Regions from separate parts of the Homo sapiens genome. Here all the other regions are linked to region 3. The links come from fine-mapping of genetic effects on gene expression. A gene starts in region 3. Each other region holds a variant in brackets. All regions are shown on one strand. Distances are between the middles of the regions.

The links. PIP is the estimated chance that this variant, and not a neighbour inherited with it, causes the effect.
Region 1: its variant is the best candidate, but not a certain one, in a credible set for the expression of ARMC2 in caudate (GTEx, PIP 0.84).
Region 2: its variant is the best candidate, but not a certain one, in a credible set for the expression of ARMC2 in NK cells (Schmiedel 2018, PIP 0.63).

What each region holds. Positions count from the first base shown.
Region 1 is chr6:108,534,079-108,536,842 of GRCh38, forward strand. No RefSeq gene overlaps it. Among named protein-coding and RNA genes, the nearest start is that of FOXO3, 25 kb to the right of the region's middle. The variant C/T (reference allele first, on the strand shown) is at 1,168.
Region 2 is chr6:108,794,592-108,797,355 of GRCh38, forward strand. No RefSeq gene overlaps it. Among named protein-coding and RNA genes, the nearest start is that of LINC00222, 44 kb to the left of the region's middle. The variant G/GA (reference allele first, on the strand shown) is at 1,352.
Region 3 is chr6:108,847,135-108,849,898 of GRCh38, forward strand. ARMC2 (armadillo repeat containing 2) reads left to right here and starts at 1,288. Exons shown (of 18, transcript NM_032131.6): 1 at 1,288-1,412. RefSeq lists a silencer at 1,546-1,645.

The DNA of each region.
Region 1 (2,764 bases), 310 kb before region 3:
AAGGGAGAAAGAGAAAAAGAAAGAAAAAGGAAAGGAAGGAAGGAAAAGAAAGAGGGAGGAAGGAAGGAAAAGAAAGGATGGAAGGAAAGAAAGAAGAAAGAAAAGAAAAGGAAAGAAAAGAAAAAAGATGAAGAAAGAAAAAAGAGAGAGAGAGAAAGAAAGAGGAAGGAAGAGAGGATTTGCTGTGGTGGTTGGGAGGGGACTCCTTCATGGAGATGGAGAAGGAGCAGGCAGAATATTGGCACTCAGAGCTCTTGTCATAGCATAAGTTAGAGGGCCCCACGGCAACCTGATGACAGCTAAAGGCAGGTCCCTCTTCTTGCTGTGACCCAGGGCACCGTCCTTATTCAGACTGAACTGAATCTGCAGCCTGTGTGTGCTCTCTAGACCCACCTTGACACTTGGTTTGGGGAAGGCTTTCTCCTCCAAGGCTCTGGTTTGTCCCCAGTTTGTGCCACTGAGTTTCAGTCCCCTTCAACTGTGCCTGAAGGCTAGAATTTATGCCCCAGGGGGCAGGGGCCAGGGAGGGTGTCCTCAGCCTGTTCTTTACTTGACAGCCTGCATCTGCCCCTATTTACATCCTCTGCAGTGCTGAACCTGCTTTCTGTGTTCATTCATTCTTTCCAAGCTCCACATGTGGCAGAAGGGTCTGGACTGGGATCAAGAGAGGCCGGCTAGGTTCTCAGCTCCATGATAGGCAAACCCCAGTTAGTATGGAGCTCGGCTTCCTCACTCACCCAGCTTCATTTGGATTCAGACCCGGGTTAAATACCTGCTGTGTGACCTGGTGTGTTAGCCAAAGTTGCTCAACCTTCATCTCCCCATTCGTAAAATGGGGGAAAGAATACCAACCTTGCAGGGTGCTGTGGGCATCAGAGATCATTACTCACAGTGCCCAGCACTGCGCAGACATTCATTAGCCAGCAATTGTTATCTACGATTGTCCTCAAACCCCCTTCCTATTCTGAGAGAGATGCTGGGTCACAGGCTCCCATTCTTCAGGCTGGCATTTCAGTTCCATCTGGAAGATGAGTAGAGGCAGCCCTGAGGAACCTGCTAGGGGCTCAGAGGCACAGATGATGGCCAGATGTCACTCCTCCACTCCTATTCTTGGACCCTGGCCTGGGGTAGCTTGGCCTTCACCTTCCGGCTTCTCTGCGCAGCACT[C/T]ACGGCCCTTCATGTTTGCACGTGTGCCCTCTGCTCCCTCTGCCTACATGAAGCAGAATGGAGGGTGGACTTTAGGTCTTCCTCCCAGTGCAAACCTTCTCCTGTGAGACAGACTGCAAAGGGCCGAGGATAATCTGTGCTTGGTGACGTGAACTCATTCTCTAAGCTGAGGCCCTAACCTTTTGTTGTCATGGGCTCCACCAAGAAGCTGAGGATGAATGCTCAGAAATCTCCACTGTAACCAAGTTCTGCACAAAAATCTGCTGAGGTTTTGCATAGATTCTCCAGGGGCTCATGACCACAAGTTCAGACACCTGAGCTCTGGTCCCTCCTCGTGTGTGTGCGGCAGCCTCTCCCAGGGTCTTGGTGCTCGCCTGCTCTCTGGAAGATTAACAAAGTCAGGGTGTTGGTTTTTCCAAGGGCTGAGTTGCTGCGGTTGGAAGTACTGAGGGTGACCTGTACGACCCTCCTCTCAGGTAGGGAGGACTGGGGGTCCTCGGCCACCCAAGAGGCTCCTGAAGAGGGCACCCTGAGGTGCCGGCATGTTCTGGACATCATCATTCATTGGGAGAATCTGACCAAATATGTCATTATATTACATATGAGAACATTATAATCAGCACATTCTCAGCAAAAATGTTCACTTCTTTAACACTATTTTCTTCACACTATTGAGCTCTCATGCAAGTAGAGTTCGCCATTGATACTGTTTGCTGGATGATAATTAAGGATGACTTCCTACATTGTTCCCCAAACCTAGTGAACCATCAGAACCACCTGGGAAGCTAATACAGACTATTCAGCCCCATGCCAAACTTATTGAACTTGGATCTTCTTTGGAGAGGCCCAAAAAACTGTACTTTTAAAATAAGTGTCATCAGTGAACCTAATGATTAACTAAGATTAGGAAACAAGGACTTAATATTGAGTAACATTTAACCTTCCTAAAGAAGGCTTTTTTTTTTTTTTTTTTTTTTTTGGAGACAGGGTCTCACTGTGTCACCCAAGCTGGAGTACAGTGGCATGATCATGACTCGTTGCAAGCTCAAGCCCAACCTCCTGGGCTCAAGTGATCCTCCCACCTCAGCCTCTCAAGCAGCTGGGACTACAGATACACATCACCATGCCTGGCTAATTTTTTTTTTTTTTTTTTTTGAGATGGAGTTTTGCTCTTGTTGCCCAAGCTGGAGTGCAATGGTGCCATCTCGGCTCACTGCAACCTCTACCTCCCAGGTCCAAGCCATTCTCTTGTCTCAGCCTCCCAATTAGCTCGGATTACATGCATGTGCCACCACACCCAGCTAATTTTTTTGTATTTAGTAGAGACAGGGTTTCACCATGTTAGTCAGGCTGGTCGTGAACTCCTGACTTCAGGTGATCCACCCGCCTTAGCCTCCCAAAGTGCTGGGATTACAGGGAGGCAGGGCTGGCTACTTTTTTTTTTTTTTTTTTTTTGATTTTGTAGAGACAGGGTCTCCCTATGTTGCCCAGGCTGGTCTCAAACTCCTGGGCTCAAGTGATCCTCCAGCCTTGGCCTCCCAAAGTGCTGGGATGACAGGCATGAGCCACCGAGTCTGGCCTAATAAAATTGTTTGAG
Region 2 (2,764 bases), 53 kb before region 3:
AGCCGCATGTTCTAGATGAGGAAAATGAAGCATGAGGCATGGAGTTACCTTGCTCAGGATGGTACAGTGAAGGAGTTGGGGAGCTCGATCCATACCCGGGTGGGCTGGCACCAAGAGGAAAGTGGCCTTACCTTCACCACATGAACATGAGGCCTGGAAGTTTCAGAGGGCCGCCCTCTCTATGCTCAGAGATACCTGGACTCAGCTGATGTGTGAAAGCCATGCTTCGACTCCCCAGTCGAGTGTAACCCCTCTAGATAGACTGTCCAAAAGGCTACATACAATTCAGAACATTTAGCTTATCTTTACTTTAAATTGTATACTTACCTTACCAACTCCACTGGCATTAGGGATTCTTCTTGCTCACCATTCCTTCCTTTCTCTGTCTTCACATTTGCTGGGTGCTTTGGGGACAAAAGGAGGAAGGGGAGAAAGAGGAGGAAGCAGAGGAGAAACAATTCTCTTTGCTTGGGAAGTCTGCATTCCAGCCCTGGCAATGGGCTCTGTAACTGTGAAAGAACTGGAGAGTGACATGACAGGGTTTGGTAGCAAGTCGTTCCCTCCTTAGATAGCTCAGGCGGGACCAGGTGAACATCTCCAGACTCTTCCCCACACATTTGGCCTCTGCCTCACCTCTCCCTGATGGGGTTAATTCACTATGTCCCTACTCTGTGGCCTTCCCAGCCCATTACCCTACCTCTGTCACAGTCCTCCTTACTTTGCCACCTCATAGGGCCTTCCTGATAGAGCAGGAGGCCAAAGTCCTCTGACCAAGTTTGCAGAGTAAATTTGAGGTGAAATGAAATTCCACCTCCTAAGTTGACAGAAGGCACAGTCAGAACATTAAATTGGCTTTAGCACATAGAATAATTCTTATATATTTTGAGAGGTCTGGAAACGTTTGCTTATAAGCAAGTGTTTCAGAAAGACCTCCTTATATTTTGATATAGTGATTATAAAATAAAAATATTTCTAGTCCATCTTCTGTCCAGGGAGAGGTGCTTTTAGCTTTTAGAAGCAAGAGGAGCCACCTGGTTCTTCTCTTGGTCACCTTTCCTCTCGCCCACCACCTATATCAGGTGAGTCAATGCCATAAAGGATATTTACCTTTAAGATCAGAATAATTGATCTTTCCAAAGTGACCACCTCCTACTGCTAATTTATAGACCAAAGAAGGTATCTGAGATAAGTATTTATTCTATAAAACTTCTGAAGAATCTAGCTTAAACAGATATTTTTCCTTAAAATTATTTTTTGTAATACATGCACAAAGTCAGAGCATAAAAGAACATAACATTTATTTGTCAAAAACTCATTGAATAATATATATCAACAAAGTTGATTTAAATGT[G/GA]AAAAAAAAACCCAGTCATAACATTAAAACCTAGTTTTTCTCACTTCCCTGTCCCCTAGCCACCCTACCCCTCCCCAGAGATTACTGGATTACTGCCGTGATATTTTTTGAAGAGGGTGGCATATTGACTTCTAGAGATGTTCCCTGCGTGTATGCATTTATAATCTTTGTTGTTGTTGTTGTTTGTTGTTTGTTTGTTTTTGTTTGAGACGAAGTCTCGCTCTTGTCCCCCAGGCTGGAGTGTGATGGCGCAATCTCAGCTCACTGCAACCTCCGCCTCCCAGGTTCAAGCAATTCTCCTGCCTCAGCTTCCCAAGTAGCTGGGATTACAGATGCCTGCCACCACGCCCGGCTAATTTTTGTACTTTTAGTAGAGATGGGGTTTCACCATGTTGGCCAGGATGGTCTAGAACTCCTCACCTCAGGTGATCCACCTGCCTTAGCCTCCCAAAGTGCTGGGATTACAGGCATGAGCCACCGTGCCCGGCCGCATTTGTAATCTTTTTTAACAACCTGCACATGGCAGCATTTTGTACACTCAGTTCTTGCTTTTGTCTCCTACTACTGTATAATGGAGACGGTTCCATATCAGCACAGTCAGTGCTGCTTCATTCTTTTGATGGGCAACACAGTTCCCCCCGGCAAGGCTATAGCCTAATATCCATACCAGTTCTTTTCGATAACTTTTAAGCTATTTAAAATCCTTTGTTATTACGAACAATGCTTATGTATAAGCATATCTATAGAATAAACTCCTGTGAGTAGAACTACTAGGTCAAATGGTATATAGACTTTATAAAATAGTTTAAATACACAAAAAAGTATAAAAAATAATGTAACTAACAACGTACCCAGCATTATTACATCTCAACAAGGAAAATCACATTTCATTTAGGAAGCACTGAAGTGCGAGGTCACTGAAGTCATGAGTTATTGCTAATTTATTTGGAATAAGGGAGTTATCTAATTTTGCTTTGAAATCTGGAAGCCTGTACTCAAATGCTGCTAGGATTGTAAATGTATTCCATCTAGTGGGCTCAGCTGTGTCCAGAGTGGACTGGTTTTTCTAACCAATCACCTGCGTGTTCCTAAATTTAGTTCTTTGGTGTGTTTTGCCCTAATCAATGAGATATGCAGGCCTGGCCTGGCAAAAGGCCCGAATTAGCTCAAAGGTGACTGCTAAGATCATGTAGCCTATCCCAAGTATCCTGTCATACAAGTGACTTTACAGGGATTTGTTTTACTCCTTATTAGATGGAATGAGCTTTCAGTTTCATTCTTATCATTTAAGTGGATTGTGGTTTAATGTATTTGTAAAGGCATACCGTGTATCTATGCACATGTATTGTTTCCATTATGCTTTATCTCAGGCCTCATACCTTCTGCAAGGATTTTCATAATGTTTTTCTGAGT
Region 3 (2,764 bases):
CCTCTAGTGAATAGAGGGGCGGGTGGGGGTCGGGGACAAGCCTAAGCCTAGTGCACCCCTTCAGGGAAGGCCAGCTAGAGACCTTAAGCCTGGGGCTGGAATGGGGGAGGAAGACTTTTTGAAGTTTGATGCATTTGTTTATATCTTGCACCCAACATTATAGTTTTGAAATGAAGCTGTGGTTGAGATTTAGTTACAACAAGACTGTCAGTTATCTAAGAATGAGCAGAAAAATCCAGGGCTGTTTCGGGTCCTAAAATTATCCAATCAACGAATAGGTATTTATTTTCTGTTATGTTTGAAATCCTCTTGAGTATTTTGAAGAATATTTACATTCCTTTAGTTCAGGTTAGTATAATTTCCCACCTGGCACGATGCCTTACACATAGTATGTGCTCAAAAATATTTTCAATTTAATTATTCTTTACAAGATGCTTAGCACCAAGGGAAGTGGCATTTTCCCAGTGTTGATGACAAATAGCACTTCAGCTGGAAAATCTCCATATTTATAAAACGTGGTGCAAACCTGAATGGAGAGTGCTTATGATCTCACTTTTATTTAACACTGTACAGTGTTGCTAAATGGTCTAACAGGAGAAAAGGGAATTTAAACTAGAAACACATAAATGGAGTGCTTTTTGCCGTTCAACTGTGATGATGCACGAACAAAAAACGATTGGCCACGGGAGACCTAGACTGGAATCTCCTTCTCCTGCTCACTACACCTCAGGCCCCCAGTTCCTCTCCTGTGGATGGGGACGCCAGGCTGCCTACCTCAGACTCAGAAGGTACGATTACGTGCATACACTCTGCGAACTGAAGGGCTGTACAAATGCAAGGGCTTAATAACAGCCAACAGTTTAATATTCGTTGATTGCCACGTGCATAGCGCTTTACATCTATTTTCTCATGCAGTCTTCATAACAGCCCAAGACCTACCTAGGTACTATTATTAATATTTCCTGCCACTTGACATCGGAGGAAACAGAAGCTCAGCAAGTGGCTCCAGGTTATACAGAGCCCTAACCTGAGCCAGTAAATCCTTCTTACCCACAAGCATTAAGCTTCCGTCCTGCCTGCTGTTATTTAACAGAGGTGCTGGGATCCGGCAGGGGAGCAACAAATGTGGTTCGGCAAATTGCTAAACGAAAAGCGGACACCCGCCCACGACGCCTGCTCTGATCTGACCTCCCGGCCTACAGCCCTCTCCAGGCTCCTCCCACCCGCTCCGGCCGTCGCCACGCCTCGGAGCTTCTACGCATGCGTTGGCGGGACCCGCGCAGGCCCAGTGGCCGAGCGGCGTCGTGGGGTTACCCCGCCCGCGCCAGCGCTGCATCCCTGGCCGCTACCCGGGGAGAGCCGGAGGATGAATTGAACCTCGCAGCCGCTGCTATCTCCAGTGCTCATCACAGGTGCTTTGGGTCAGGTCGGAAGCCTCCTTCCCTGAGCCCTCGCCAAGCTCATTCCCCGGCCCGCCTCTCCCGCCCTGCAGCGGCCTGGCCCTGCGGTCTGGCTGCCGGGGCGGCGGCGGGAGGTAGTTTGTGTACGGTTACCATGGAGACGCTGGCTGCGGGGCGAAGTGGGAGGGTGGCCGGGCGGGGTGAGGATGCTGCTGCGCCCTGCCCTGGCCGGGACCGTGGAGGAGCGGGCACTGCCGTGGGTGGGGGAGCCGCTGTCCGAGCGGGAGGTGAGGTGTCCCCAGCGGCTCCCCAGGGACCCTTCCTGCCGTCGTCCGCCTGTGTGTCCTCGGATGGGGTAGAGAGACGATGAGTGCCCTGTGCATGCTGTCAGGGGTCCGGAGCGGTTGTCTTTTATTTATGTACTGTCGCACTTAGCCAAGTGCGTGGTGCTTAATAAGAAGCCCAGTAATATTTGTTGAATGAGAGTGGTAGACTAAGGGGCTTTGTCTAGGCAGGCGGTGACCGGGCCAGAGTCATACAGTTTATATCTGGGCACTTCCAGGCAACAGGGCCTCAATAAATAAAAACGTATGTGTAACAATATTTAACATACTTTAAAATCATGGAGTGTATACATAATGCCTTTTGTGATCCATTCCCACAAGTAACACAACAGATCTTACGTCCCACCCTGATTTATAATAATTATACTTTAATTTGGTTGAAAAGCAAGCACCATTTATTATATTTATCCTGGTTTCTTAATCTATGGGATTCTGGTTGTTGATGTTGATTTGGCATAGCTGATATTCAATAAAATGCTTAATAAAAATTATCTGTTTTCATAAAGGCAAGTACCACCACCCACCTTTTAAAAGGAGAAGTACGTAATGTAAATGACGAGTTGATGGGTGCAGCAAACCAACATGGCACATGTATACCTATGTATCAAACCTGTACATTGTGCACATGTACCCTAGAACTTAAAGTATAATAATAAAAAAAAACTTATGTATAGAAACACTGAACAAACGTCATTCTCTCTTTTGCAATTTCTTTTTTTAAATGTAGTTTTTCATTCGTGGAAATGATTTTGCTGTATCCTTTTATCATGTAGCACTTGGGCAATAATTGTTAACATCTTTAAGGGCCATATTTTAAAATGTTAACATTTTTAAAGCACTGTGCTAACGCACTTTACATGTATTATATCATTTAATTCTTCAAACAATCCTATGGGGCAATTATTATTACTATCCACCTTTTATAGATGAGGAAACTGATGCTTAGAGATATTAGAGGCATTGCCTAAGGTCACATGGCTGTGAATTGTCAGCATTTAAACCCTTAGTCCAGCATCTAAG